7 linked regions of the Homo sapiens genome follow. The protein of the gene in region 6 purifies or fractionates together with the protein of the main gene of each other region. This does not show direct contact. Each region holds a gene or a part of one and is shown on either strand. Other genes may lie near its edges.

Evidence for each region.
Region 1: the proteins of CCDC106 (region 6) and GID4 purify together in Homo sapiens (affinity purification with mass spectrometry; one large-scale study listed by BioGRID and IntAct). This does not show direct contact.
Region 2: the proteins of CCDC106 (region 6) and NEFM purify together in Homo sapiens (affinity purification with mass spectrometry; 3 studies listed by BioGRID and IntAct, with this or other methods). This does not show direct contact.
Region 3: the proteins of CCDC106 (region 6) and RANBP10 purify together in Homo sapiens (affinity purification with mass spectrometry; one large-scale study listed by BioGRID and IntAct). This does not show direct contact.
Region 4: the proteins of CCDC106 (region 6) and CAMK1 purify together in Homo sapiens (affinity purification with mass spectrometry; 3 studies listed by BioGRID and IntAct, with this or other methods). This does not show direct contact.
Region 5: the proteins of CCDC106 (region 6) and ARMC8 purify together in Homo sapiens (affinity purification with mass spectrometry; one large-scale study listed by BioGRID and IntAct). This does not show direct contact.
Region 7: the proteins of CCDC106 (region 6) and POMT2 purify together in Homo sapiens (affinity purification with mass spectrometry; one large-scale study listed by BioGRID and IntAct). This does not show direct contact.

Annotation. Positions count from the first base shown.
Region 1 is NC_000017.11:18,052,378-18,056,720, forward strand, and holds part of GID4 (glucose-induced degradation protein 4 homolog), read left to right. Parts: intron 1-1,749; coding exon 1,750-1,857; intron 1,858-4,325; coding exon of another isoform or gene 4,326-4,343.
Region 2 is NC_000008.11:24,916,299-24,919,974, reverse strand, and holds the end of NEFM (neurofilament medium polypeptide), read right to left. Parts: intron 2,915-3,676; coding exon 1,369-2,914; 3' UTR 882-1,368; downstream 1-881. UniProt on the Homo sapiens protein: Neurofilaments usually contain three intermediate filament proteins: NEFL, NEFM, and NEFH which are involved in the maintenance of neuronal caliber.
Region 3 is NC_000016.10:67,726,516-67,730,858, reverse strand, and holds part of RANBP10 (ran-binding protein 10), read left to right. Parts: intron 1-812; coding exon 813-921; intron 922-1,030; coding exon 1,031-1,179; intron 1,180-1,374; coding exon 1,375-1,579; intron 1,580-2,257; coding exon of another isoform or gene 2,258-2,347; coding exon 2,348-2,469; intron 2,470-2,962; coding exon 2,963-3,108; intron 3,109-3,420; coding exon 3,421-3,532; intron 3,533-4,300; coding exon 4,301-4,343. UniProt on the Homo sapiens protein: May act as an adapter protein to couple membrane receptors to intracellular signaling pathways.
Region 4 is NC_000003.12:9,756,573-9,760,516, forward strand, and holds the end of CAMK1 (calcium/calmodulin-dependent protein kinase type 1), read right to left. Parts: intron 3,179-3,944; coding exon 3,100-3,178; intron 3,004-3,099; coding exon 2,916-3,003; intron 2,715-2,915; coding exon of another isoform or gene 2,615-2,714; intron 1,275-2,614; coding exon 1,157-1,274; coding exon of another isoform or gene 1,050-1,156; coding exon 967-1,049; coding exon of another isoform or gene 945-966; 3' UTR 775-944; downstream 1-774. Other genes in the region: OGG1 (N-glycosylase/DNA lyase), read left to right, coding at 1-49, 195-244. UniProt on the Homo sapiens protein: Calcium/calmodulin-dependent protein kinase that operates in the calcium-triggered CaMKK-CaMK1 signaling cascade and, upon calcium influx, regulates transcription activators activity, cell cycle, hormone production, cell differentiation, actin filament organization and neurite outgrowth.
Region 5 is NC_000003.12:138,294,860-138,299,275, forward strand, and holds the end of ARMC8 (armadillo repeat-containing protein 8), read left to right. Parts: intron 1-999; coding exon 1,000-1,033; 3' UTR 1,034-3,514; downstream 3,515-4,416. UniProt on the Homo sapiens protein: Component of the CTLH E3 ubiquitin-protein ligase complex that selectively accepts ubiquitin from UBE2H and mediates ubiquitination and subsequent proteasomal degradation of the transcription factor HBP1.
Region 6 is NC_000019.10:55,646,323-55,651,385, reverse strand, and holds the start of CCDC106 (coiled-coil domain-containing protein 106), read right to left. Parts: upstream 3,175-5,063; 5' UTR 2,340-3,174; coding exon 2,309-2,339; intron 2,182-2,308; coding exon 2,077-2,181; intron 1,979-2,076; coding exon 1,802-1,978; intron 104-1,801; coding exon 1-103. UniProt on the Homo sapiens protein: Promotes the degradation of p53/TP53 protein and inhibits its transactivity.
Region 7 is NC_000014.9:77,275,100-77,279,442, reverse strand, and holds part of POMT2 (protein O-mannosyl-transferase 2), read left to right. Parts: intron 1-573; coding exon 574-714; intron 715-934; coding exon 935-1,049; intron 1,050-1,961; coding exon 1,962-2,067; 3' UTR 2,068-4,343. UniProt on the Homo sapiens protein: Transfers mannosyl residues to the hydroxyl group of serine or threonine residues. Coexpression of both POMT1 and POMT2 is necessary for enzyme activity, expression of either POMT1 or POMT2 alone is insufficient.

The sequences.
Region 1 (4,343 bases), on a different chromosome or scaffold from region 6:
GCAGCCTCTCTCAGGAAGGTCCTACACTACATGCAGGCCAGGTTGGTAGATGTGGCAAAGCCATCAGAATGAGGTTTTTGATGCAGAATAAGAGGGGCTTACATCTGATCTGAAGGAAAAACGTGGGCCTTCTGCAGTCCTTGATGTTAGGACTGTAATCTGTGGTTTTCCAGGCCAGTGACTCTCATAACCATGCTCCTGGCAGACACCAGGGGCTTGGCAAGGTAGCCTGAGAGGTGGGTGCTTGGTTGGTTTCTACAAATGCAGAGAAATGTAGACTTTTTACGGTGTTAACTTTTTGTCTTATTAATCTTTTTTAAAATCATTGGTGCCTACTTATTAACACATGAACAAAGAGCAATTAACAAAGCACCCAAGCCAGCACATGGCTTCTTGCTTACGTTTTCCACGGTGTGGTTTTTACATTCAGACATGATTTACATATGTTTTTCCTCATATAAATTGTTTTTAGTTCATATGTTTTTCCTCATATAAGTTGTTCTTAGTTCATGTGACAGAATTAAACGTATCCCTATGTATCAAGGTATTCTAAGACTACCTTCAGGGACCATTTGTATAGTTCATTACTAGAAGTTTCTCTGAACATGTAGAACACTGAAAAAAGTATTTACTTTTTTTTTTTTTTTTTTTTTTTGAGACAGAGTTTCACTCTTATTGCCCAGGCTGGAGTGCAATGGCGTGATCTCGGCTTACTGCAAACTCCGCCTCCAGGTTCAAGCAATCTCCTGCCTCAGCCTCCCGAGTAGGTGGGATTACAGGCATGCGCCACCACGCCCGGCTAATTTTGTATTTTTAGTAGAGATGAGGTTTCTCCATGTTGGTCAGGTTGGTCTTGAACTCCTGACCTCAGGTGATCCTCCCACCTCGGCCTCCCAAAGTGCTGGGATTACAGGCGTGAGCCACCATGCCTGGCCAAAATAAAAGGTATTTTAGGCTGGGTGCGGTGGCTCACACCTGTAATCCTCGCACTTTGGGAGGCCAAGGCGGGTGGATCACCTGAGGTCAGGAGTTCGAGACCAGCCTGGCCAACATGGCGAAACCCCGTCTCTACTAAAAATACAAACATTAGGTGGGCGTGGTGGCAGCCAACTGTAATCCCAACTACTCGGGAGGCTGAGGTAGGAGAATCACATAAACCCAGGGTGTGGGAGGAGGTTGCAGTGAACCGAAATTGTGCCATTGCACTCCAGCCTGGGCGACAGAGCAAGACTCTGTCTCAGGAAAAATAAAAAAGTATTCTACCCCAGAATCCACCCTGGAACCTTGGAGAATTGGTGTAAAAGGGACAAATGACTGAGCCAGTTGGAGAACCAGTGGCTTGAGGGAGCCTTAGTGGTAGACACAGTGATTTTGGAGCCTCTTTGGGTCTAACCTTGGAAAGTAAAATCTACCAAGTTATGATCTGCTTTGTATGCTAGAATATTAAAAATTTATTTGTGGAAACATCCAAATTATTTTCTAAGAGACTAGCATGTAACAATTGAAGTCAAAGAAGGGCTGTCTGCTGCTGGCAAAATCCAGGAAACCCTTCATTCTCTGGGTGATTTAGATTCAGGTCCATTGCCACAGCCTGTTGGCAAACTGGCTGCGATCTAACTCTGGTTTGGATTGTCAGGTAGCAGTGTCTAGGTACTGGAAAGAAGTTAAAGCAAAGTTTATTTTTCCTTTGTACAAAGGTTAAAAACTCTCACTCAACATCTTATTTTGATATTTGGGTTTTTACCATAGGAGTATCCAACCCTTACAACCTTCTTCGAAGGAGAAATAATCAGCAAAAAACACCCTTTCTTAACTCGCAAGTGGGATGCAGATGAAGATGTTGATCGGAAACACTGGGTGAGTAAATCTGATCTGTGCTGGGTCATCTAGGGGCTGCTAGAGAATTGAAGAAATGCTGGGAGCCAGAGACCTTGTCCCTTATTGAGGATTACTGGGGCTTTGCAACCAAGTAAAAGGTTGCACTGCACACAGACCTCAGTTGTTCCATCTTCCTTATGAGGACAGTTTAAATACGATCTGACCTGCTGCTTAAATAGCAAATGGTTGTCTGATGATAGCAACCCCAGAGTTCCAGCCAGAACTCTGCTCAGCTATCAGAATCTTAACAGTGTCCCCCCATCCTTCCCACCTGTTTGTCCATCTTCTGTCCACTGTTCCTTTCAAATCACCTCTGCTTGGGGAAAACCCTGTGAAACATGCAATGATGACCTCCGGCTTCGGGGCTGGCATGAGATGGAGATGATGTTGTGGGAATCTGCCTGCCCACTGGCTTATCAGGGCAGAGCCACATCATTTCTTTTTATCCTGGCTGCTGACAGACAAGTATAGTCTTGTCTTAAGTACACCACTATAAATCCTGCTGCCCCCCTTTTTAACTGTCAAGTGTAGAGCATTCTCACTCAGCAGTAGTGAATGCTTCAAGACAGTTAGTGTCCTGGGATCTTTTCATTTGTTGTCATATAAGTACCATGTCTTCAAAAATCAGTGTCTCGGCTGGGCGCGTTGGCTTGCGCCTGTAATCCCAGCACTTTGGGAGGCCGAGGCGGGCGGATCACCAGGTCAGGAGATTGAGACCATCCTGGCTAACACGGTGAAACCTCGTCTCTACCAAAAATACAAAAAATTAGCTGGGCGTGGTGGTGGGCACCCGTAGTCCCAGCTACTCTGGAGGCTGAGGCAGGAGAATGGCGTGAACCCAGGAGGCGGAGCTTGCAGTGAGCCGAGATTGTGCCACTGCGCTCCAGCCTGAGCAACAGAGTGAGACTCCGTCTCAAAAAAAAAAAAAAAAAAATCATTTTCTCAACCTAATAGCCTTTTGCTTTAGTTGACCATGGTGATGGTGAATTTTTGTTTAACATTGAAGAAGTTCAATGGGTTTACCCTCCATAAACCAACCAGAAATGGCTGTGTCAGTAGCAAAGATTCTAGAACTCGTTCTTCCCATTGCCTCTCACACCTGGCTATCTAAACTCTCCCCTGGTTCTGGCACAGCAGTCTGTGGAGAGAACTCCCGCAGACCCTTGTCTTGAGTTCACCTCACTAGAGATCAGTTGCTTTGCTTACTAATGTTTTTTATTTGTTTATTTTATTTAAAAAAAATTTTTTTTAGAGTTGGGGTCTTGCTCTGTCGTCTATGCTGGAGTGCAGTGGCATGATTATAGCTCACTATAGCCTCAACCTCCTGGGCTCAAGTAATCCTCCCACCTCCGCGCCCCAAGTAGCTAGAACTACAGGCACGTGCCACCACACTGAGCTCATTTTCTTTTATTTTTGTAGAGACAGAGTCTCCCTATGTTACCCAGGCTGGTCTTGAACTCATGATCTTAAGTGATCCTCTTGCCTTGTCCTCCCAAAGTGCTGGGATTATAGGTGTGAGCCACTGACCCAACCTGTTTTTTTGGTTTTTCTTTTATGGGGGTTTTTGTTTTGTTTTGTTCTGTTTTGTTTGGTTTGGTTTTGAGACAGAGTCTCAGTCTGTCACCCAGGCTGGAGTGCAGTGGCGTAATCTCGGCTCACTGCAACCTCTGCTCACTGCAACCTCCGCCTCCCAGATTCAAGTGATTCTCATCTCTCAGCCTCTCAAGTAGCTGGGATTACAGACGTGCACCACCGTGCCTGGCTAATTTTTGTATTTTTAGTAGAGACAAGGTTTCGCCATGTTGGCCAGGCTGGTCTTGAACTCCAGGCCTCAAGTAATCCTCCTGCCTTGGCCTCCCAAAGTGCTGGGATTACAGGCGTGAGCCACCATGCCCAGCCCCAAGCTGTTTTTTACTTGAGTAAAAAAAGGAGATCTATCAAATACTGAGGTTCAGTTAAATTTAAATTTAAACTTGAGCTTTTTAAAGCGTTTTTTGAATTCTATACATTTTGATTGTTGTAGCAAATGGACACTAAAAACTAGACAGTCATTTGTGTCTCTCTGTGATACAAGAGAATGCACAAGACCTGAGTATCCAGAAGGTTGGGGGAGCCCAAGTGGTGTATGAAGGTGCTGGCCACCAGCAGGTGGAGTTGGAAGGGCTCCCTAGTACCATCTGCGCCCACCCCTGCCCAGGGCTAGGCTCTTCCTGCATGGCTTGCTGCCTCACGAGATGGCTCCTTCCTCTCCTGTACAGTCCCAGAGTAGAAGGTTCTTCCTTGTAGTAAACCACAGCCTCTCTCCCATTCAACTCTATTTTCCATTTCATATTGGTCCTGCAAAAAGCAAAGTCTTTGAGGCCCAGTGACACTCAGTTTTAGGCTAGGTTGACTACAAATTAAATACTTGGAAAGCAACTCTTAATTTTCCCATTGACTTCCGTTAGAACATTGGAAGATATCTG
Region 2 (3,676 bases), on a different chromosome or scaffold from region 6:
AATTAATATATTAATGGTCTTCAAGGCCTAAAACAAGTTTTGAAAAGGGGATGATAGTATTTCCTTGGTCAAGATCATGTCTTTTTATTTAAAAACACTTATTGCCTATGTCACAGAATCTCATTTTTCTTTTCTCAGGTAGGGTATTTTATTTATTTTTTATATCATTTTCCACAATTAGTAAAATACTAAAGGTGTAAATCTCTGTCAGTCAAATCAAGCATTAGTGATGCAGACAATGTGTATGTGTGTGTTTGTGCACAGGAGGCATGCCTCTGAGGCTGGATAGTTCCGGGTAGGAGTGTTAGTGATGTCAGCCCTGTCCCCACTGGACACATCGTCATAAATGCCATGAGCTCCTCTGTCTCTGTCCCAACTCCAAGGCACAAGTTATGAACCCCTCCTTTATTGGTCCTCTTACCTAGAGGTTCTGAGTTCTGTTTTGGGATAGAAACAAACACTGAAGATTTCTATCCCACCAGATTCCTATTTGTATCTGATGCTTTTATTTTTATTTCAAAAATATGATTTTAAAATTTTGGGATGAAGACCGGGCTCGGTGAAGATGTTGACACCTGAAAATATCTTCAGCAATTACGTTTTCCAAGTAATTGCTGTCAGGGAAATAGCAATAAGATGTGCAGTTTACTTATGATTCCCCCCAATAATCTATTTCAGGGCAAGAAAGCTTCAGGTAGTGGAGATTTCACTTTGAAATGGCATAACAGGCTGGGCGTGGTGGCTCATGCCTGTAATCCCAGCACTTTGGGTGGCTGAGGTGGGAGGACTGCTTGAGGCCACATAGCAAGACCCCATCTCTAAATAAAAATAAATAAATAAAAATTAGAAAAAGAGAAATGACATAAGACTCAGCAATTGACTATGTTTCCAATATGACCTTTATTGAGCAAGTACTGCTGTGACGTTTAACATCGATCAACATAAGATTGCAAACTGTGCATGTCAACGAGGTTCTCCCATGAACAAAAGTCCATTTTAAATGCACCAGTGAGGTAAACATAATTATTCATATATAGCTTTCTTAAGGCTGAGTTCTGTGTTTCGTTTATTGTTTTTGGCTCAGTTGGTACTTTGCATAATACATCTCAAGACATCCCCCCTTAAGTGACCCCCTTCCAACAGCTTAGGAAATCGGCAAATTTCCCAGGTACATACAATATCATGCATTTGAATCCCCCAAAGACTGAGGAGGGAGCACCCTGAGCTTGCATGCAGTCCCCTCATATTGCACAAAGTAAAATACAATGTCTGGAGCCCCCATGGGAGAACCCGTTCTGTTTTGAAGCTGCCAATCACATGCATTTTGAAATTGTCATATGGCTTAACCTTTTGCAATGGACTCAAATCTTAGTCACTCTGGGTGACTTCCTTTACTATGGCGTGTGAAGTGACTTTTTCTACCTTTTTAGTAGACACTAGTTTCTCCTCAAAGGTCTCTTCATGCTCTTCAACCTTTTGAGTGACGGTTACAGATTTAGTGATGTATTTGGTAGCACCATCTCCCCCCTCACTGGTGATTTTTTCTACCGTTTTGGTCACCACCACTTTCTCCTCACTTTTATCACCCCCCTTCTTTTCATCTGCTGGGCTCAAGTCTAGGCCATTGGTGACAACGCCTTTCTCCTCTTCCCTCCCACTGCCTTTTTCCTTGGTCTCCTGCTCTACCTCCTCTTTTCCTTCTACCTCCCCATTGACAGCTATGTCTTCCTTCCTGGATCCCTTGGCACCTTTATCACTCCCTTCCTCCTCACTTCCTCCCTCTCCTCCCGCTTTCTCCTTCTCTTTCTCCTGCTGCAGTGGCTTCCCCTCTTCTTTGGTCTCTTTCTCCAAGTGCACCTTTACCGATTTGGTGATGGTGACCACCTCTGCCACAGCTTCCTCCTTTACAGGGGACTCAGCTTTCTTCTTCTCTGGCACATCCTTTGGTTTCTCTTCCTTTTTCTCTACCTTCTCTTCCTTGGGAGCTTCCTTGACTTCCTTTTCTTCTTCCTCTTTCTGTTCACCTTTCCCCACTTCTGCTTTTGACTTTGCCTCTTCCACTGGTGATTTTGGCACAGGAGATTTGGCTTTCTCTTCCACTGGTGATTTTGACACAGGAGACTTGCCTTTCTCTTCCACTGGTGATTTCGGCACAGGAGACTTGCCTTTCTCTTCCACTGGTGACTTGGGCACAGGAGACTTGCCTTTCTCTTCCACTGGTGACTTGGGCACAGGAGACTTGCCTTTCTCTTCCACTGGTGATTTTGGCACAGGAGACTTGGCTTTTTCTGGCTTTTCCACCTTGGCATCTGCCACCAGCTCCTCCTTGGTAGCCACTTCCTCACTCTTTTCCTCCACTTTCTTTTCCTCTTTAGCTTCGGCTTCCTCTCCTTCAGCTTCAGCTTCTGTTTCTCCTTCTTCCTGCTCACCTTCCTCTTTTTCACTAGAGCCTTCCTTCTCGGATCCTCCCTCTTCGGCTTGGTCTGACTTAGCTCCCTCATCTTCTTCCTCCTCTTCTTCCTGGCCTTCTTCTTCCTCCTTTTCCCCTTCCTCTTCTTTAACTTCAGGTGCAGTTGCTTTCACTGGAGACTTTTTGGCAGCTACTTCTTCTTCTTCAGCTTCGGGTTCCTCTTCCTTTTCTTCTGCTGCTTCTTTCTTCTCTTCCTTCATGGAAACGGCCAATTCCTCTGTAATGGCTGTCAGGGCCTCTTCCATTTCTGACTTCTCATCCTCCACTTTGGTTTCCTCTATGATCTCCTCGACAAATTTGTGTTGGACCTTAAGCTTGGGAGCTTCCACCTTGGGTTTCTGAATCTTACTGGATATTGTGATTGGGGGTCGGTGTGTATACAGTGGCCCAGTGATGCTTCCTGCAAATGTGCTAAATCTAGTCTCTTCACCCTCCAGGAGTTTTCTAAGGAGAAAATCCAAGAACATAAGACATAGTAAAAATTTCACTAGGCCTTCTGAGCTTCATTACATTCTGGGTATTGTGGTAGCTACCTTTGAATAAATAGAATTACATAAGTAGAATATTCTATGAATTCACTATAATACCTGCTATCACTTACTGGCATATTACATTATACTCAGTGACAGAGAAAGATTCTCCTGGACTGCCAGACAGTTGCCCCCTACAATGACTAACCTTGCCCAATAGTCCACTAACCACACCCAGCTACTAAGTCTTGGCCCTGCAGTAGAGATCCATTAGGTACAACATGAATATGCTGAAAAACTTGTTAGTGGCCAAATAGCAAAAAACAAAAACAAAAACAAAAAAACAAAAAGCCATAAACAAAACGCCCCCAAACTCCAAAGCCAAACAGCCTTTCTGAGAGTAGTCACTTTCTTAAACGTTTAGATTTTCAGGTGTATCGAGTTATAAATTTGTTGATAATTTTTATCATAAAGTGTCTATTTAATGTAGTTATTCAGCTTTCCTGAAAAGAGAGATAGCTCTGTAAATGCAATTTATTCTCGTTATATTATAACTACCTTATTGGTAGCAGAAAAATTTTAATCAACGATTTTGTCCTTTGCGCTTAGTCAACAGCAAGGTCACTTCAGTTAATAGACCTATAACCTATCTCACTATCTATAAAACGATCATATATATTTGTGTCTATATATCTAGATTTATATGCATATGCACATATGTGTATCTATAGATCTA
Region 3 (4,343 bases), on a different chromosome or scaffold from region 6:
AGCTAGAAGGAGAAAAGGAGAATGAGGGCAAGTGGGTGTGGATATGCGTGTCTGTGAGTGCCTGCCTACCCCTCTCCAAGCCTGCTGTCTCTTCTGTATGTGCACGTGTCTGTCTCCCAGAGAAGCTGTGCTCAGCCAGACAGACGGAAAGGGATCCCAGACTTGGGATCTATGAATGAGAGCCTCAGACTCTGAAGTTGCTCCCAGCGAGATGCACCAGGCCCCACGGCAAGAGCGAAAAGGCAGCAGCAAGATGCTGATGGCGTGAGAGGTGTCAACATCAGAGGTGCCAGCATGAGGAGGATGGCCTCCTCTCCCAGCAGGGGGCATGCTGCAGCCCCTGAAGACCACCAGCCAGAGCCCTGGTCAGAAACCAGTGTGATTCCATTGCCATTCCCCTGTGAGGCCTGGAAGGAGAGGAGTCTGTCTGAAGAGGAGCCACTCAGGCCGCCAAGCTGCCTGGGTGCCCATCCCCAGATCATGTTGCCCCAGCTGGGGCCCTACCCTGCCCCCAGGTCCCTGGCACCATGTGCCCCGCAGGAGCAGACCTCCACATTTACCCTCCTGCCTTTGGGCTGAGAGTCTCCCCTCCATCTTCCCCATATTCTTGAGGACTCTCTGACACTTGGCAGAAACCAGGATCTGTTGGGCTGGGCAGTCAGGTTCTTTCTCCAGCCTCCTCTCCTGTGAGCATTTCAAGCTGGCGAGGCACTCTGAGCCGGACCCTACCCTGAGGCTGGCAGCATCCCAGGTGTGTGGCTGTGGGAGAGGCCTGTAGCCCTCGCTCACTGCTGTGTTCTTGCACCCTGCAGAGATCCAGAAGCTGGTGCTGGAGGGCCGTGTGGGCGAGGCCATCGAGACCACCCAGCGCTTCTACCCAGGGCTGCTGGAGCACAACCCCAACCTCCTCTTCATGCTCAAGTAAGTCTTGGGCACCCCCAGCTCCCCCAGAGTCCAGCCCCTCTCAGCTGGTGGTGGGAACGTCAACCTGGACCACAACCAGAGCATTATTGCTCCGCTCCCTCCACAGGTGCCGGCAGTTTGTGGAGATGGTGAATGGGACGGACAGTGAGGTCCGAAGTTTGAGCTCCCGAAGCCCCAAGTCCCAGGACAGCTACCCTGGCTCCCCCAGCCTCAGTCCCCGACATGGCCCCAGTAGTTCCCACATGCACAACACAGGTCAGCCACTCTCCAGAGGGCTCTGGGAAGAACTGGTGTGGAGGAGAGAGGCCACTCCACATACCCTTTCCTGGGCTGGGCTCAGGGCTCACTGCTGGATTTGGGAGAAGGGAAATGGGACCACTGTGGTTGTTCTTGGGGCTTCATTTCATGGGAAGCTGCCCCTCCTCTTCTGACTGTCACCCTGGCTTCTAGGAGCAGACAGTCCCAGCTGTAGCAATGGCGTCGCGTCCACCAAGAGCAAACAGAACCACAGTAAATACCCTGCACCCAGCTCCTCATCCTCGTCCTCCTCCTCCTCCTCGTCCTCTTCCCCATCCTCCGTCAATTACTCCGAGTCCAACTCAACAGACTCCACCAAGTCCCAGCACCACAGCAGTACCAGTAACCAGGAGACCAGGTGCCTGCCTTGCTCTGCTTCCTCCTCTGCCTTCTGCCTTATGCCAGCTGGGCCCATTGCAGTCTGTCCTTTGAGCGCCCTGCCCTTCACCCCCAGCCTCCATCTCAGGTCTGTGCCTGGAGTCCTAATTTTTGGCCCACCGGGCCAGACATCAGCTCTGGCTTCTGGCCCTCCCCACGATTTAGCTGCACTTTCTTTGGCCTTGGCTTTCTCCAGAGGCTCCAATGATGCCAGGCTGAGGATGTGGTCTCCTCCAAAGAGGCCGGGCCTGTGAGAACCCTCAGGGTCCATCATGAGGGAGCTTTCCCTGGCTCTGGCTTGTAGACAGCCAGGTTGGGCAGGCAGGGGAAGCTAAGCCGCAGGCTAGAGCTCTAGGTGGCTCTCAGCATCCCCAGGTACACCTCAAGGCTGACCTGAGTTTGGCTTCCAACCAAGGCCACAGAGCTGCCCATGGGGGCCATGGGGCCCAGTCATTAGGTTGGGGGATATGTAGAAGAGGTGTGTGAACTCAGAGGAGGGCCAGGGAGGGGAGAATCACAGAGGCAGCACTGGGGCAAGGGTGGGAATCAGGTGACAGGCCTCTGAGGATAGCTGGTGTCACAGTAGGGGCCAAGTGCTGAAGACTTGGAAGCCTGAGCTGTCCTTTCATGTTCCTGGGGGTCCTCGGTTCACCCACAGCAACCCATGGCTACAGCTTGAAAGGAGGCCCAACCAGGCTGCTCCAACCACACCCCCTGGGCCAACTCCCACCTCAACCCCTCCCCACAGCGACAGTGAGATGGAGATGGAGGCAGAGCACTACCCCAACGGTGTGCTAGGAAGCATGTCCACACGCATTGTTAATGGTGCCTACAAGCATGAGGACCTGCAGACGGATGAGTCCAGCATGGGTGAGAGCCACGGCCCGGTGTGCTATTCTTTGAGGGCAGTGTGCAGTCTGGGTGCCCTCTTCCCCTGGGAGGGGCTGGGGTAGGCAGGCTTTGGCATCTTGAGAAGCTTCAGCCAGACCTGGTCCACAGCCTCCTTAGCCGATTGTGAATGGGTCCTTGAGGTGGCTCCAAATGTACGAAGGCCCTGGCCTGTGCCAAGACCACCTATGTTTGAGGCTGGAGGGTGTTCGAGAGCATGGGCACCCTAATGAGCACCCTGCGTCTGTGCAGGCTGGGAAGAGGGACAACTTCCAAGTCCTCCCTAAATCCTAGACTGTGCGCCAGGTGAATGAAGAGAAGAACGCCTTGACTGTAGCTGCCTCACCTGTTCCTCCCAGCCCTGCCTGCCTCTGGCAGAAGCTGCAGCCCACCCGGGGTCCTTCCTGCCCCACCCTAGTCCTGCCCTTCCCTCTTCACCCCTCCTAACACGTTCTCCACTGGGTTCTGGATGCAGATGACAGGCATCCTCGGCGGCAGCTCTGCGGGGGCAACCAGGCTGCCACAGAAAGGATCATTCTGTTTGGCCGCGAGTTGCAGGCATTGAGTGAGCAGTTGGGCCGGGAGTACGGCAAGAATTTGGCCCACACAGAGATGCTGCAGGTACAGGATGAGCCGGGCCTCATGCAGAGCAGGCCCCATTTGGTGTTGGGGGCAGGGTGGCTCTGGGAGAGTCCAGGGGGCAGCAGGAAAGAGTGGGCTCCAGCCAGGTCTGCAGAGGGAAGTGGGGCATCTGGGCCCACTGGACATGTGCCCTCCACACCTAGGCTCTGGGGAGAGTACAGCCCTGCCCGACCCTACACCCCACATTCCAGGCTGGGCATCATGCAGGGCCCTGTCTCCCTCTGGAGCCACGGGTAGCAGGGTGAGCTATGGTGTGTGCCACAGTCCTCTCAAGAATGCCCTGTCCTGTAGGATGCCTTCAGCCTGCTGGCATACTCAGACCCCTGGAGCTGCCCAGTTGGCCAGCAGCTTGACCCCATCCAGAGGGAACCTGTGTGTGCTGCCCTCAACAGCGCCATTTTAGGTGAGTGAATCTATTTATTATTATTATTAGAGACAGAGTCTGCTCTGTAGCCCAAGCTGGAGTGCAGTGGCACAATCTTGGCTCACAGCAATCTCCACCTCTGCCTCCTGGGTTTAAGCAATTTTCGTGCCTCAGCCTCCTGAGTAGCTGGGACTAAGGTGCGTGCCACCACGCCTGGCTAGTTGTTGTATTTTTAGTAGAGACGGGTTTTGCCATGTTGGCCAGGTTGGTCTCGAACTCCTGGCCTCAGGTGATCTGCCCGCCTTAGCCTCCCAAAGTGCTGGGATTACAGGTGTGAGCCACCATGCCTGGCCTAGGTGAGTGGATCTAACAAAAACAGAAGCTAGCCCATAGCTACCTGGGTGGTTCCCAACCCCCACCCCAATTGGCCCCAGAAAGAGCTGATGTTTATCCACACTGGGGCAGCAAGCTCTGTACAGGCCCTCTCTGGTGACTCATAGGACTCCTGGGCTCCCATGGTTGAACCTAAACCTTGACCTCTGTCTGCCCAGCTGAGTTCATGATGGGTCCTAGGCCATGGCAGTAGGCCCAGGCCAGCCCAGCGCTCTACATGGGGCTAAGGTCCTCAGGTTCCTGGCATGACTTCAGGGCCATGGCCTGGTGGCTGGGACACACTTACACAGAGGTACTGAACACTCTGTTCCAAGAGAATCTGTCCACTGCCCCCTCCTTCCACCCCCAAGGGAACTTTGACCTGGGCCCAAGCCCTGGGCAGGCCAGTGACCAGGCCTTGTCTTTCCTCCACAGAGTCCCAGAACCTGCCAAAGCAGCCCCCTCTGATGCTCGCCCT
Region 4 (3,944 bases), on a different chromosome or scaffold from region 6:
ACCACGTCCCAGGCGAAGGGACCGAGCCCCCAGACCAACAAGGAACTGGGTGAGGAAAGTGGGCTGCAGGGGCTGGCAGTGGGCTGGGATGGTAGAAACTTCTCTCTCTCTTAGTCACCTCTCCCTCAGACCCTACTTCTGTTGATGGGTCACAGAAGGGGTCAGATAACTTAGTCTCATCACTTCTGATTTAGGAAACTTTTTCCGGAGCCTGTGGGGACCTTATGCTGGCTGGGCCCAAGCGGTGAGTGTACCTAGGTGTCCTCCCTAGGTTTCCTCTCCTCCAGCCCAGACCCAGTGGACTCTTCCACCACCGCCCCAGGTGGCCCTAAAGGACTCTCCAGCCACCCCTGTCCCAACCCCAGTGGATTCTCATTGCCTTCGGCCCTGTTCCCCAAGGACTCTTCCACCTCCCAACACTGTCACTAGTCTCACCAGCCCTGACCCCAGTGTACCCTCCTCCCCACACAGACTCCACCCTCCTACAGGTGCTGTTCAGTGCCGACCTGCGCCAATCCCGCCATGCTCAGGAGCCACCAGCAAAGCGCAGAAAGGGTTCCAAAGGGCCGGAAGGCTAGATGGGGCACCCTGGACAAAGAAATTCCCCAAGCACCTTCCCCTCCATTCCCCACTTCTCTCTCCCCATCCCCACCCAGTCTCATGTTGGGGAGGGGCCTCCCTGTGACTACCTCAAAGGCCAGGCACCCCCAAATCAAGCAGTCAGTTTGCACAACAAGATGGGGTGGGGGATATTGAGGGAGACAGCGCTAAGGATGGTTTTATCTTCCCTTTATTACAAGAAGGAACAATAAAATAGAAACATTTGTATGGAAAATGCAGTGAGGAGTGGTAGGGAAGCAGGTGAGGAGGGGACAGGGCAGAGAAACTCCCGGTTCAGGGAGGGAAGGGGAGCAGGCTGCCCCCAAGCCCTCCCACGCAGAGGATCATGACCCGAGGTCCAGGGCCCTAGAGCTGGTGGGGCAGTGTGGGGGACAGTTCTGTGCCCGGCTCCACGCAGCAGTCTCGACAGCAACAGCCAGCTGCCGGCCCTGCATGGGAAGACAGAACAGAGGTGGCCGCAGGGGCAGGCCCTCCACTCCAGCCCGGGTGCACCTTTGTGGACCACCCATGCCCTTCTGCAGAGCCCGCTCCTCACCCCCAGCCACTGGTGTCAGCAGCTCCCCATGGCTCGCCGTCTGCCCCTGCCCCTCCTGGCTGGTGCCCAGCTGCAGTTTCCTCATGTGCCGCACCACAGCCGTGGCATTGAAGGCTTGCTGGCATTGAAGGCATTGAAGGGAGAGGGGAGAAAGGACTTTTGAGAGAGTCAAGTCATGGGGCAGGGGCGCAGTGGGATTCTTGCAATTGTTCTGTTATTTTCATTCAGGAGTTATTTTATTAATTCCCCTAAAGCCCCCCAAAAACCTCTACAAGGCTTTATTATATATTTACACACACACACGCACATATGTTAGATGTATGTGTATCTATATATATAAATAGAAACATAACTATAATTCATATTAATATGTAATAGCAAACACTATAGCACTGTATGTCAGGCACTGTTCTAAGCACTTTACGTAGTAATTCATTTAATCTTCATGAAAGTCTTTGAGGTAGGTACTATTATCATTTTCAAAGGAGGAAACTGAGGCACAGAAAGCTGAAGTAACTTGCTCAGGTGTGTCTCTATTCAATATCTCCACCTAGGTGTCCCACACACCCCTCAAATTCACCATGTCTAAAACTAAAACCATCCCCCCAAAACATGTTTCTGTCCCTGTGATAACCATCTCAGTCATGGTACCACCACCATCCATTCTGTTCCCAGCCACAGTCTTGGGCCAGCCCTTGACATCTCTTTCCCCCAACATCCATTGCATCGTCATGTCTTGTCAGTTTCACCTCCTAAATGACTCCTGGATCAACCACTGTTCTCTGCCCCCTGTTGCTGCTACTGTGGTTCCAAACCCTTACCATCTCCTGCCTGTATCTCTGCCACAGCCTCCTAATGCGTCACCCAGTCTTTACTCCATGCCATTCTCTGCATCCTGAGAGCTCTTTCTTTTTTTTTTGAGGTGGAGTCTCACTTTGTTGCCCAGGCTGGAGTGCAGTGGCGCGATCTCAGCTCACTGCAACCCCCATCTCCGAGGTTCAAGTAATTCTCCTGCCTCAGCTTCCCAAGTAGCTGGGATTACAGGCACGCACCACCATGTGTGGCTAATTCTTTTATTTTTAGTAGAGACAGGGTTTTGCCATGTTGGCCAGGATGGTCTTGAACTCCTGACCTCAGGTGATCCAACCACCTCGGCCTCCCAAAGTGCTGGGATTACAGGCGTGAGCCACCATGCCTGGCCCTGAGAGCCCTTTCTATGCAGCAAATACTTGCCTAAGATTCTTCTGGGGCTCCTCAGTGCCCTCAGGATCAAGTTGGTGCTCCTCTGTGGCATATGAGGCCCTAAGAGGCCTGGCCCCTTACCTGCTTCTCTAAATTGGGCTCCTGCCTCTCAGTCCCCTCAGCCCCTCCAGTCTGGCCAGGCTTAGCACTTGCACTTCCCGGAATGGCTATAGACATTATTCCGCTATGCCTCACTAATTCCTACTTAACTGACAGCTCTGTCAGGTCATCACCACTTTTATGACCTTTCTCGGACCCCATAGGCTGGATCAGATGCCTCCTGAAGAATTACAGACTTCTTCCTCTAGACTTGGAGGTGAGGGACCCTCTCTGGAATAGAGAAGGTGTTGGGAGTGTTTGTTGAATGAAAGAGTGAATGAATGAAGTCCTTCAGTAAGGATCCCTAAGCAGTTACTGTGTGCCCAGTGTGATGCCAGGTGCTGTGCAAGCTGAGCCTGGGTAGGGATGGGGAGGAGTCCTGGGGAGGCTGGGACCAGAACTAGGGATATGGACTCACCTTCCACTTGCTCTTGGCAAAGTTCTTCTTGATCTGCTCACTCACCGACTGGTGGATATTCTTATCTAGAGCTGTATCTCCTGCAATCCTAGGATGGGGTTATGTGGTGGGTTGCCTATGAGGGCAGAAGCAGACCTGAGGGCCCCAAATCCCGCCCCAGCTCACAGGTTGTGTGAATTCTCACCATGGGTGCTGCAAGGCCTGCTCACAGGTGAATCTTTTCTCTGGGTCCTTCTCCATCAAGTGCCGGATGAAATCTTTGGCTAAACCCCCAAGACAAAAGCAAAGATAATGACAGCATGGTACTGCCTGTGTACTCCCCAAGAGCATACCCACTCCCTCAGGTCTGGCCTGGCATCAAGACAAAGAGGCCAAATCAGTCCATGCCCCACCCCACCCAACCTATGCTCTTCTTCAGGCCCTCCCACCCCGTGCCTTCCAGCTCTTTCCTTTCTCTCTTAAGAAAAACATATGGCCGGGCACAGTGGCTCATGTCTGTAATCCCAGCACTTTGGGAGGCCAATGCAGGTGGATCACGAGGTCAGGAGTTCAAGACCAGCCTGGCCAAGATGGTGAAACCTTGTTTCTACTAAAAATACAAAAAAAATTAGCCGGGCATGGTGGTGGGCGCCTGTAATCCCAGCTACTTGGGAGGCTGAGGCAGAGAATTGCTCGAACCCGGGAGACAGAGGTTGCAGTGAGCCGAGATTGTGCCACTGCACTCCAGCCTGGGCAACAGAGCGAGACTGCGTCTCAAAAAAGAAAGAAAAAAAAAAAAAAGTTGTTCTTGACTAATCTCAGTGCATTCACACTGATGATAAACGATAGTAGCTTCACAGGTTTGCTTCTTAATAGGGGGCACAAAAGGAGGATGAAAATGTTTATGGTGGTGTTTTAGACATTAGGGTGTCAATAGGGGAGAGGTATTTTCAAATAGACTATGTTTGAAGATTGAACAAATGAATGCCTAGTTTCTCACTCTGGGAGCCAAGCAGAAGGAAGTACCCAAGCAGAAGGAAGAAGGGGTAG
Region 5 (4,416 bases), on a different chromosome or scaffold from region 6:
TTTTTTGGTTTGTTTTTTGGGTTTTTTTGTTTGTTTTTTGTTCTTTTTTTTTTTTTGAGATGGAGTTTCACTCTTGTCGCACAGGCTGGAGTGCAATGGCACCATCTCAGCTCACTGCAACCTCCACCCACCAGGTTCAGGCCATTCTCCTGGCTCAGCCTCCGAAGTGGTTGGGATTACAGGTGCCCGCTGCCACACTCGGCTAATTTTTGTATTTTTGGTAGAAACAGGGTTTCACCGTGTTGGCCAGGCTGGTCTTGAATTCCTGACCTCAGGTGATCTGCCCTCCTCAGCCTCCCAAAGTGCTGGAATTACAGGTGTGAGCCACAGCACCCGGCCTACATTCTATCTTTTCCTTTCCACCTGGCCACCTTCTTCCCCCATCACCGTAACAACACACATCTCACATTGATCAGTTATGGTGTCATCAGGTGTGATGAGAAGAACAAGATGAAATTGTAGCCTTCTTCCACGGTTCTGAGGCATGTGAAGCATAAGACAGCCTCATCCCATGGGCTCTTGGCCCCTTCCATGCACCTTCTAATCACCTCAACACCATTTCCTCGGTCAGTTTTCTTATTTGCTTCCCAGAACCCTAAGTGTTCTCCCTAGTGTTGTGCCTCACTGCATAAAACCTACATGGCAGTAAGAAAAAGTAAAGAATGTAAGACCTATCACAACTATATGCCAGTGACAAAAGAAAACATAGAATGTCAGCACATACCAGGGACTGTGGAATGTCACTGAGCTGCAGCAGGTTTAAGTGCAGGAACAGCCCTCTGAGAGATCCACAGGAAGAAGAATATAGCCAGAGTAGATTTCAGGTGTCTACCCACTGCAGATCTCTTCCCCTTAAGGTAGGTGCCCACCTGGGCTCACCCCAATTCCCTCTGGAGATTTACTTTTTTAGACTTCCCCAGCTATCATCATTGAACCATAGGGTTTTTTACCCCAATTACAATTCTGAGATGATGGCTAACAGGAATTTTGTGATTTCAGGGCAAAGATGGCACTGCAGCAGTACCTGGCATGATGGGAGTGCCCCTGGGCACCTGCGAGCATCCCACCTCCTTGTTTAAGGAAGTACAGGAACCAGCCTCATTTGATTCCTTCTATTTGCACAAGTCACCTTGGACTGCAGGGAGCTGTTTTGCAAAAGCAGTTTAGTAGGCTTAGATCTCAAATTCATCTTGAGAACATTTTTTTGAGGTAGTAATTTCCTCAGAAGACTCTTGTGTTTTGTTTTGGTTTTTTTTTCTGAGCTACTCGGACTCTTTATTAGAACAATCAATCATTTTCCTTTGGACCTACAATTTTTGCCTATGCTGCAGCCACTTTGTGAGTGAGAATGAATATGTCTGTGTGAACACACAGGCATGCGTGTGTATGTGCACGTACATGGGCCAGAATGAATGGATGTGTGTGTGTGAGGGATACCTCAGATTTTTCTTTTCTTATTTTGTGTGAAAATCTCTTTTCTACAGATTTTCCAGGGTTTAAGCATTGCTTGCTGTATAAAAAACTTTACTGAATTATATACAGTTTGAATGAAATGTTATTTTAAAAACAAAACAATTGTTAAGTGTTCCATAAAGGTTATGTTGAATTTTGGTCAGATGAATATTTGTAAGTAAAAAATATATGCATTTCTGAACCTCAACTTACATAGATTTTCTTTATATAAAAAAAAAGAAAAAAAAAGAAAAAGTTGGCTATAGTTGGCCTGATTAACAGGCACTATACATGGTGCTGTGCAAAATAGTAAGCTAGCATCTTACTGCCGTCAATATTAGCAGGTACAGAGCCTTTTTTCATCCTAATTCAGTAAGTTCTCAGGCTTCCAAGTCAAATGGAGAAGTAAAGTGAGGCAACAGATTCACCATAGGCTTTTTGAAGCATCAAAGGGAAATATAACTACTGATAGTGAAAGCCCAGCCATGACCCAGATGGGCTTACCCTTGACAGGAACTGGGGACCAAGAGCCTCCCAATTGCCCTAACTCCTGTCATTGGTATTAGCAATATCTGGCCAGATTTAGAACCAGTCATGGAAACTTGTGCTCAAACTAAAAGTAGGTCATCACTTCCCAGAAACAGAATACCTTGTGCTTCCTGAAACAGCATATATCACTGTGAAACTAAAGAATATTCTACAGACACCCCTGTAGAAAGAAACAAAGAACAGGATAGTTTAGAAAGCTTTCTGTTAGCTGTATTCAGCAAATTTCATACTAGTTGCTCAGGACTGCTAGTTGGTATGCTTTTGTAAAACGAGATTGAAATTTAATAAAAGATGCAACTAAAATCTTTCCTGCATGAAGCTAAAAGCACTCAAGTTGAGAGAGGGGCAAGGGAATCTCCCCAGGATGACTGAAGATGACTTCTTTTTACAGCAAGTACTGTTAGCCTTTCTGCACCCCTTAGCTTGGCCCCTGCTCCAACTTCTGGGTCAGCAGCAAGGTGAACTCAACAGAAGTTGCTCTTGACTGTTTGAAGGTAGAAGCAGCCTACCTTTTCTCTTTGCTAAAAGAAGGTCAAAGGCTTCGCAACCAGGATGCAAGGTCTGCGGTCCAGAAGCTTGCGGTGAGTGTGTGCCACTGATGGAGCTCCAAGCCCACCCACCAGCCACTCCTGATGGGGTTGCTCACACTGCAGCTGCCCTATCACCACCCTGCACGTTCCTTGGAAGATTTAAATGTTTGGTTGCAAATGAATGTTTTAAAAATGTATTTAATGCAATTTTTCCTGCTCTCAACATGACCACCCAAGATTCAAACACAGAGACTTCCAAGTTACTATTTTTTCAGAACATCACCGATTTTAAAATCTGTCACAACAGGACTTGGTTTTGTGCAGATATCAGAGTGCTAATGTGAGAAACCCAGTTAAAAGAAAACTTAGTTTATTGGGAAGAAAGCCTCAGGCCCACTCGTTTCTAGAACTGTGAAAATATCCTTGGTTGGCATTTTTAACACAAAACACTATAGTGTTGGTATTAAATAGTACTAGGTAAATATAAAGAAACCAATAATGAATTGCTGAGACAATCTTGAACCCAAATAGCATTAGAAAGCTGAAGGCCCAATGAAATAACACTTTCACACTTAAACTCTGTGGATAAATTTTGCCTGTGGGTATAAACAGATGGTCAAATTAAAAATGCTTTACTATAATTAACTTTTCTGATTTGAATGAAGGGAAATGTATTTATTGAAACAAAGCTGTTTGCTGCTTTATGCAGGTGCAGTGTTCAGTCAGCAAGGAAGTGGGAAGAGTGGACATGGTATTGTGTCTACACCCAAGTTCTTAACTAAGCTTCTCGCTCTAATACTGCATTCTGTTTCTCCTTTTGTGCCCTGATTGTAATCCAAAATTTATGAACTAGAAAAGAATGTCCAATTTAATAAGTTGCATTTTTTTTTCTTTAAGCACTTTATTCAGAACAATACATGTTCTTCTGGTAGTGTTTGGATAATATGATTTTAACACATGCTAATAAAAGCCAAGAAAAATCATGGCAACTTCTAAAAAGGAGTCTGTTTTCCAAATGTCTAGAACATTAGGAAACATCAGAAGATAATGTGTACACGCTTTTGGAACCTGTGATTCTTGGTAAATGAAGGGCTGGGAAGTGGCTTTGCATTTCAGAGTGGGACCCAGTGCCTTAAGGTAAGTGTGGTTCCCAGAGGCATCTGCAGCAGTCTGGGGACCCCTCTCTTTTTGGCCTCCTTCTGAAGGCCAGCAGACCCTTCACAGGTGGCCACTCCCAGCCACAAGATATCCCATCCCCAATATCATGTCCACCCCCTCCATCCTCTTCTCCTTAGGTATGCCCCATCTCCACTACCACCAGCTTGCATCTCCACTACCACAGTATGCAAGAGCTTGCTATCCCTCTGCAAGGACACACAGGTGCTCTTCGTCTACTACGCACTGCCACCTTTTCCCATCTCTGAATTGTAGGCACATCTCCTATCTCAAGGCCTCACTGGAAACAAAGCCAAGGACACCTGCGCCAGAGTGGCGGGAGGATGATGAGGTGGCTAGCAAGAGAGGGAATAATCATGGTGGGAACCTCTGAGAGGACCCAAGGTAAGGCGAAGAGAGTAGGAGCAGGGCCAAGCAGGCCCCTGTTTCCCATAACTACCACAGGAAAACTTGGAAGTGAGGTCTAAGGAGGGAAGGGGGACTCCCACCCCAGATCTTGATGGAGGGCTGACAGAACGGTTCCAATTTCTTGCCACCTGGGGTAGGAACTGGTGCTGTCCCCATCCTGCCCCTTGCCTGTTTACTGGGCAGAGAGGCACATGTTTATTTCCAGCATGAGAGAAGGTCCAGGATCTGGCTTTAGGGAAGGCTGAGGGAACCCCCCAAGGGCCACTGAGTGGACTACTAAGCCACCTTTTCTCTATCTCTG
Region 6 (5,063 bases):
AGGGAGGAGGCTGCTGACTCAGGGTCCGAGGCCTCGCCCCCAGCCCCACCACGGCTGTCCCCCTCCATCCGCCTGGGCCCAGGCTTCATCCGGCAGTGGTCCTCTGGGGAGATGGAGACACACACATGAACCAAGGGACCAGACATCCCATCACAGGTCCCGGGACTGAGAGAGGCTGCAGTCCCCGAACTGGATCCCCCAACCTGGGCTGGTCCCCTAAAGAGACAGAGAGACAAGGAGTACGGTAGAGACGCTGGTGGCTGAGTAGAGCCAGTTGGGGTCTGTGGGAGGTGGTAATGGGTGGAGCATTTTCTCAGAGGCCTGGGTTGGCAAGAGGTCTTACGGAGGCAGCCGACCAGGGGCCTCAGGACCCCTGTGACTATGCGCGGTTCCCATAGGGGAGGGAGAAATTTCTGGGGACTGGGCGGGACCTCTGGAGAGTAGCCTCTGGAAACCCAGGAGGCAGGCAAGGCCTTGGCTGGAGTCGGGGGGTCAGACCGAGAGAAATCAGGGGCCCTGGGTCCAGCAGGCTGGGTCCCACCTCCATCTAGACAGAGGGAGCCGGCAGGCGGAGGCCCAGACACAGATTCCTCTAGAAGGCGGGTTAGGGGAGGGCTCTGGTGCCAGGGTCCCCACTGGGAAAGTGCCGAAGCCGCAGGGCCAAACTGTCTGTGCAAAGGAGTCAGTCACCCAGGATGGAACCATCAGTGAGAGGAGACAGTGGCAGGCCCAAGGGCAGCCAGAGGTGGTTTGTTCCCGAGCAGAGGGAAAGCCAGATCCCCAGATGCTGGGCTTCCAGTAACAGAGACACCACAAGACCATAGCCCCCTTGCCTAGGATTTTTGGGGAAAGGGTTGAATTCACAAAGAGAGATGTGGGAGCTTTTGAGGGGTCTTCCCAGCCAAGGAGCTAGCAAGGCTGAGATGAGGGTAGGTGGGGTAGAGTGTGGGTTCTCCAGGCCATGGGCTGTCGGGCAAACGGCCTGACCATCCGGGGAAGAGGATGGGGCTGGGGTCCAAAATGTATTAAACAGGGCACAGGGTCCCACCAGTCAAGAGAAGACGCTAGCTGTGAACTGGCTGGGGCTGGGTGCTGCTGTGGGAGCTATCTGGGCTGCTTCTGGCCATGAATTATAGCAGAGCAAGGTATGTGGGTGGGGACTGCCCAGGAATCAGGCAGGGTTTGAGGGACAGCACCTGCTGGGGTCACCACCCAAAAAGGCCCACAAAGGAAGGGACTTAATGTCTTTGATGGGGAAGGAGTGCTCATTAACCAAGGATGGGACAGGGTGGGTGGGAAGATGGCCCCTGGTGTCACAGAGGGGAGGGGGGGACAGGAGGAGGCCGGATGGCTGGACTCTTGGATCTTGGAGAAGACAGGGACGGGAGGAGGAGCAGGGGCCCCCTGAGGAAACCCAAAGAACTAGGGTGGGCCTCTTGGCCAAAGAGATGAAGGAAGGTCCCCCTAGGAGTCAGAAGAGAGGGGCTCTCAGGTGCCAGGGTCCCTGAAGTCACCATGGGCCAAGGAAGCAGATGGCAGGGCACTGGAGGCTGATGGGATTTGGGGAGCTGACGGAGAAGGCAGGAGGACGGGCCCCAGTAGACAGTTCATGGGGATGAGGCCCTGGAATCAAGTGAGGAGGCAGCTGGGCCTGGGGGCCCAAAACAGGCAGGGGACTAGCAGATAGGGCCAACATGGCAGGTCCCACCCAGCCAGCCAAACAGTGGAGCCTTGAGTCTGGGTGAGCGGGTACCCAGTAGCGGGACAGGGAGGCATGTGGATCAGAGCACCCCACACACACCTGCCTCCATCCGAGCAGAAGAGATGAATTTGTCCAGCTGGCACCGCAGGAAGTCCCTCTCTTCCTCCAGGTCCTCGATGCGCTTCTGCAGCCAGGAGTTCCTCTCCAGAGCCATGTGCAGCTGGGTCTTGACGCTGTTCATCAGAGCCAGGGCGGAGGACGCAGCCTCCGGAGGCTCTAGGGACACAGCGAGGGTGGGGGGACCAGGTCACACCCTGGGACTCAGGGCTTGGCTTCCCAGCTGACTCCAGTCCCTCCACACCCCCTCAGCTCACCCTCGAAGTTTCTCCGAGAGGGGCTCAGACTGTAAAAGATCTGTGGGTCTAGGTGGGGTGCCTCATCGAAGGGAATGGAGATCTCGAAGGTCTCATCGTCCTTCACTGGAGAGGAGAGGCCCCGGGTTACCCCAGAGAATTCCCCGGGCCTCTCAGGCCACCCCCCAACCACGGCAGCCTGGAGCCGACCGCACTGGGACCCAGGGTAGGGAAGGGGACCCAGCTTCCTCACTTGTCCGCCTCCGACTGCTCCGGTCATTCATGGCGCGGCTTCCTACGGACCCCAGCAGCCGAGGGCCTCAGGGGCACTGGACAGAAACGGCAGCCACAAATGGAGAGACGCAGATGGACTGGAGGGTCCATCCTGGGGGAGGTGAAGTGAGACAGGAGGGACCTTCTGGCCTGGACCCCTGGTCTGAGGGAGGAGGGAGCCTGGACCCCAGGACTGAGGCAAAACGCGCCTGGGCTTCAAACTCCTGGGCTCCTGGAGTCAGGGGCAGGGGGCCCAGCCGCCTAGGTCCTGGGGGAGAAGTGAGCTGGGGACGTGGGCTCCTGGGTATCGAAGGAAAAGGAAGCTGAAGCCCTAAATTGCTGGGTGCCCCAAGGGGTCGCCTGACCAGGGACACCTAGCCTGAAGGGGAAGGACCCTCTCTCATCGCGGGCCACTGCCAGGCCTAAGGAAGAGGCAGGTGCAGGGGGAAACTGCCCCAACTTCCCAGGGTAGGAGGAGGTCCAGCCCGTGCGCGCTGCCTCCTCTACCTTCGGGGCCCCCACACCCCTCCCCCGCACTCGCGTGGGCGGGCGGACCGTCCCCCGGTGGTGGGGGCTGGGCGCGTGCGCAGTACGGGGAAAGGTCACGCGTGGGGGTGCGCCCCCCCCGCCCCCGCCCTTTGTCCCGCGGGTGGGAGGGGGAGCGGTCGTGGAACGATTCCAGCGGGAACATGCACTAGGGCGGGGGTGCAAACGCGGCCACCATCCCCCGCCCGCGGGTGCCCGGGGTCCGAGGGGCCGAGGCCCCCCGCGCTCACCCACCCGCTCGCGGAATCCGGCTCGGGGACCGACGGCGGCGGCGCCCATGCCCGGCGCCGGGGAGCGTCTGCAAAGTGTCACGGGGAGCCGAGGGAAGCGCCCACCCACCCGCGAACAGGCGGGGCGGCAGGGGAGCGTGTCGTGGAACTGAGCGACGGAACGGGCAGGGACGCGGGGACTCGCCCAGTCGGGCCAGGCTAGCGCCCCTCGTTGAAGAGTCCCCGGGTCCAGGTGAGGCCCGCCGTTTGCGGCAGAAGCAGAGGGTCTGCACTTGCGCGATAGCCCCTTACAGCACTCCCCCGCCCTCCCCGAAGCTCAGGCAGGGAACATCACGAAATTCCCATCCTGGAGAGCTGGCGAGTCTCCGGGGGTCCCCGGATTGGGTGGCGGTGTGCCCAATGGGCCCAGAAGGCAGGAGAGTGTTTGAGACACCGAGAAAGTTGGAGCGAAAGGAGAATCTACTTTTAACGCTCTCTCAGGAACTAGCCAGCGCGGACCCCTCAGAGCTCCCCTACCTCCTACAGCCAGACCCCAAGGTTCTCAGGGATGTGGGGGCCAAAATCGGGGGAGTTACCCCTCTCCCGGAAAATGAGGGCCAGGAACACGCCACCCCCATCCCCATGTTGGTAATTAAGAGCTGGCTTTGGAGCAAAGCTAGATTCCAGTCCTGACTGTTCCTGCTCCTCCCCAGCCTGTTAACTCACCTGCAAAATGGGGAAATTACAAGCCCTTCTAAATTTATTGTGAGGATGCAGTGATGCGACACACAGAAGCTCAGCCCAGCACCTGGCCATCGTCAGGGCTGAAGAGAGGAGCGCTGCTGGTATTATTTGAGGTCAGATGGTGGGGTATGATGGCAGCCTCTGGGAGGCTCTTTCCCACTCTGGGGAGTATGAACGGAAGATTTGTTCTTCCTCCCAAAAAAACAGGTCGGAAGAGCAAATGAGGCCTAGCACAGTGCCTGGCACAAAATAGGCAAGAAAAATGAATGAATAAGCAGATGTTTATTAAGCTTCAGGCTCAGCTCCACCTGCCTCTCCTGTTCACCAGAAGCATCCAAGCTCTGGACTGTGGCCAGCCCTTATAAGAGCAAGGTCTTAACCCGATGGAGGGAGAATCTAAATGTCTGCACCGCCTGCAAAGCTGTGACCATGATCCTCCCCTCCCCACTTTACAGATTAACTGCAGCCTGGTCCAAAAATTCCAGGGGGAGCCATCTGCCCTAGATTGGTCTTTTCCAAACTACAGGTTCATGGGTGGAGAATTCAATAGAATAGGATGAAATCAGCAGTTTAAAAAAATATTTAGCCGGGCGTGGTGGTGCACACCTGTAATCCCAGCTACTCAGGAGGCTGAGGCAGGAGAATCGCTTAAACCGGGGAGGTGGAGGTTGCAGTGAGCCGAGATCGCACCACGCTCCAGCCTGGGCGACACAGCGAGACTCCGTCTCAAATAGTAATAATAATAGTTGATGGAAAAAAAAATGCACAAACTAAAGCTAACTATGGTAAAGAAATTTTTGTGGGCCGGGCGCAGTGGCTCACGCCTGTAATCCCAACACTTTGGGAGGCAGAGGGGGGCGGATCACGAGGTCAGGAGATCGAGACCATCCTGGCTAACACAGTGAAACCCTGTCTCTACTAAAAATACAAAAAATTAGACAGGCATGGTGGCGGGCGCCTGTAGTCCCACCTACTCAGGAGGCTGAGGCAGGAGAATGGCATGAACTCGGGAGGCGGAGCTTGCAGTGAGCCGAGATTGCGCCACTGCACTCCAGCCTGGGCGACAGAGCAAGACTCCGTCTCAAAAGAAAAAAAAAAAAAAAACTTTTGTTTCGAGGCCTAGTGCCCTGAGGGAGGCCGAGGTGTGTGGATCACCTCAGGTCAGGAGTTCGAGACCAGCCTGACAAACACGGTGAAACCCATCTCTACTAAAGGTACAAAATTAGCTGGGCATGG
Region 7 (4,343 bases), on a different chromosome or scaffold from region 6:
GCCACCTCCTTGTTCCATGGCCCTGTCCTCTCATGGGCTAGAGAGGAGCCTCCAGGGTTATTGAGTTCCCATCCCAGTGCTGTTCTTGGTAACTTTGGCTGCCAGACCATGGGCCACAGCACCTGAGACAGTCACACAGGCCCTTTTGCCTCTGCAGCTCTCTGTCTGAACAGTCATAGTCCCAGACACCTCCTCACTCCATCCTCACCTGTAACCTCACCTTAGCGCCTGTCTGCCGCTGCAAAGATCTGTGTGGCAGCAAAGATGTGGGAGGTGGAAGTAGGGAGTGAAGCTGTCTGCAGGCGCAGAAGGGTTTCTTTAGAGGCTGGGCTGCCTCCTGCTGGTGCTTGGTGCACCTGCCATTGGTGCCCAGGCCTCACTAGGCTGGGCCCTGACCAGAGCTCTCGAGCCCCAGCTGCTCCTCTCCAGTTTCTGTAGCGTGGTTTGGGTTGGTCCAATGAGGTGATATGACATATTCAAGGTCACACAGCAAGGAAGGGGCAGAGCTGGACCAGAGCCTGGAATCTCTGCCCGCTCCTTGTCTTCTGACTGGGCTGTGCTGCTTGGGCCCAGGGTTGTCCCAGGTCCTGCTTCGAGGAGGCGGCCAGGTCCTGCTCGGCTGGACACTCCATTACTTCCCGTTTTTCCTGATGGGCCGGGTCCTCTACTTCCACCACTACTTCCCAGCCATGCTCTTCTCAAGCATGTTGACAGGTCAGTGCCACCCACCTGGACTTGGGAGACAGAGCAGGTGGAGGGCGGGCCACTGTTGGGCAGCAGTGCTGGGAGTGACTCTGCTCCTTGACGGGAGGCCACTGTGGGGCAGCAGTGCTGGGAGTGACTCTCTGCTCCTTGACTTGGAGTGCCTCCTTCTTCTGTAGCCCAGAAGTCACCCCCTGCCTGGCTGACTCCAGGTTTCTCTCCTCTCCTCTAGGCATTCTGTGGGACACCCTCCTGCGGCTCTGTGCCTGGGGCTTGGCCTCATGGCCCCTGGCGAGGGGCATACATGTGGCGGGAATCCTGAGCCTGCTCCTGGGAACTGCCTACAGGTGAGCATCTCTGCACCTCACATGCCCTCCCAGTGTGGGCTCAGCAGTGCCTCAGCCCTGATGCATTCGAGAATCCCCTGCGGTGCTTTTAACACCACCAGTGCCCATGCCTGGAGGTTCTGCGTCACCCAAGCCCAGGTGGGGCCGTGGTTTCCAGAGTCCCCCAGGTGATCCTAATGTGCAGCCAGGTAGGAGAAGCAGGGCTTAACTCTGCCTTTTCCCCTTCTGCCGGTGGTTCAGCTTTTGTGCCATCCCAGCGCACCTGGAAGGGTACCCCTCTAGTGACAGTGACTCTGTGCCAGAACAGCTCTCAGAGGGGGAGTGTGGGAATGGGGGGCAGGGAACCCCTCTTTAGTCACCATGGCCCCCTGTCAGAACAGCTCTCCGGGTGAGGGAGGGGGGAACCGGGGGGCAATGGGGGACAGGGCACCCCTCTTTAGTCACTGTGGCCCCCTGCCGGAAGAGCTCTCGACGGGTGGGGTGGGAAGGGTGGGAATGGGAAGTGTGTGGCTGAGTGGCTGAAAGGGAGAGTTGTTTGGAAGGCTCCCCGCTTCCCCAGTCCCTGGCCTTGGTGCTGGGCCTGTGGCCTGTGAGCACATGCCTGCCTAAGAGGGTTACATTCACATGTTGACAAACACCCCTGGCCAAATAGCCCATGACAAGACCCCTAGAAGGGTTGCCCTCCTGGGCCTCTTGGGAAGAGCCCTTTCCATGATTGTCATTGAGTCAGCATCTACTAAGCTCTCCAGCTACAGTGTGCCCCAGTGGGACTCAGACAGACAAGGCCGTGAAAGAGAACCGGGCTTGGCGATGGGGAATTTCTCTGGAGCTCCAGCAGGAGGAATGGAATTCAAAGCCCCTCAGCTGAGGCACTGGGGGTGCCAACTGCCTCCTACTGGTTCTCTCTCACAGCTTCTACCTCTTCCACCCTCTGGCTTACGGGATGGTTGGTCCCCTGGCCCAGGACCCCCAAAGTCCAATGGCAGGACTAAGGTGGCTGGACTCATGGGACTTTTGAGGCCACTGCAAAGATTCCAGCCTGGGTCCAGGAACTTCCCAGGAGAGCCAGCTGGGAAGCAGTACTGGACCATCCGGCCATGAGGAAGCTGCCTAAGGAGCCCGAAGAATTCTGCTGCTCACCAGGACCCAGCTCTGGGAGTGCAGCTGGAATGGAACCCAGCATTGGAGAGAGCCGGGAGAGAGCCGCAGCTCCGTCCACAGCACCACGGAGAGGACAGCGCCTCTTGGGCTGCTCCCTCGTGCACAGCGCAGGGGAGGATGGGTGCCAGAGGGTGGGAGTGGGTGCGCGTGTGTGTATGTGAGGGCATGTTGTCCATATCCCTGTGGAATACAGACCGTGTAACTGGACAGCTGAGTGTCATAAACTCTAAAATAGTCCAGGCTATAGTAATATTTTCTGGTATTTTTTTCTGTTGGATTTCTTTGGTTTTGGTTTGTAAGATCCATCAAAAATTCTCAGACCTCTGAGAGGGCCTTGAGGGCAGAGAATACTGACCTCACCTTGGGATGTCACCAAAGGCAGAGCAGATGGGACTGTCAAAGTTGTGCTGCCCTCCCTCCCACAAACAAATGAATCCAGCGTGGAGGAAGGCGCGCCGCCCCGAGCTGGAGGGCCTGGCTCCCACCATGCCCCCCAGTGGCTGCAGGTAGCTGGACTTCCTGCCTGTGACGCACAGAGAGCAGCGGACTCCGGAGCGTCAGCCTGCCTTAGCCCTTGGTTCCTCGTTTTTTGGGATTGTCACACTGTGACACTCGGGAGGAACGATGTCCTATCCTGGGCTGCTCAGTGTTCCCAGGCCCTGTGTGCCAGAGGCCAGGTCTCTCCAAGTGCATCTAGCCTGGCCTGGAGGGCAAGGCAGATGCATTCTCCTGGCTGCTGGGAGAGCCCATGGGAACCTTGCTTAGCGCCCAAGGTAGATGAGAGACAGGGCAGGGAATCTGCGTGGTGCTGGGATGTGGGGACTCTGGCCTCTCCAGACTAATGTTCCTGTCACCTGCTGAGCTTTCCCAGTGTCACTTCTGCAGTCCTCCTCTGCTCACCCCTCCCTCACTCCGTGGGCAATTCCCTTTCTCTCTGTCACTGCTTCAGCAGTGAAGACCCATGGCACCTAGAAATGCATGCCAGCTTCCTGCGTCTACCACTCTGCAGCTCAAACAAGAAGCTCAGAGCTGCCCCTTCCACTTCCTCCCCAAAAGGGATGAAGAAAACCCTGTGGTAGAACCAAACCACCCAAGGCCAGCCCTTAAGCCTGCCTCCACCTTCCTGGTGCATGACAAAATATTTCTTTTGTCTCAGAGGACTTTGATGCTTCAATATTTAATGATGAATCCGCCACACTCCATTTTCCCTCCTCTGAAGCTCCCAACAACTCTGACAGGGTCAGATCTCTTTAAAGCATCTTCAGGAGGCGGTTGCCACGGAGACTGGATATTGGTCCCAGGGACAGGCTGTGCTACCTACTGGGTGGTGGGGAGGGAAGCTTCTGGCCATGCTTGGGCATTCAGACCAACCATCATTAATGTTAATAGAGGAAATGCAGCAACGTCAAAAGCAAGGCAGGTTGGTTAATTAGATCTGGGGCCCGATGACCTCCCTTTCCCACTGCTACAGCCCTTTTGACTTCCCCCAGCAGGAAGCGCTGTCTGTGCGGCTGAGTCTGGGCCACTTGCTTAATTGCATTTCTGGCAGGGAAGGAGAGGAGGGATGGAGAAGCTCTGCTCGCTGCTTCCACCTCACCGTGTGTCCTCCCCTCCCCTCCCTTCCTCTCCTCCCCACAGGCGGAATTGCTTTCTTCTGAGCCGGGTGGGCTCTCCTGCAGGGAGAATGCAGGGGTCTGTGCTTGGCTCTTAGCAAAGCAGGTGGCCCACAGTGACCTCCAGGAGGTGGCTGATTTTCCTTTGTGCCTTCTTATTTCTCAGTAGGAACTTGGAAGGGAAGAGCTCTGAAGGAGCCAGAGGGGCAGCCACCTTGCATGAGGGTGAGGAAGGAGAAGCCCAGCCAGCCTCTACCCATCCCTCCCTCCCAATTAGGCTGCACTGGGGCCGAACGCTTCCCTGGGCTCCCACTGCCTTCTAAGGAGCCAAGGAGAATTCCCTGCCCACTTTCTGTTCCTCCATGCCCAAACTGGCAGATGCTTCTCTGGGAGCAAGGCCACATGGGCTGATGCAGCTTTGAGTGCTCAGGTTCTGTTTTCTGGAAGTTGCTGGAGAAGGGCTGTCAGGGTGCTTCTATGAATATGGGCTTCAGCTGTAGCACTTGGCAGAAACGTGATG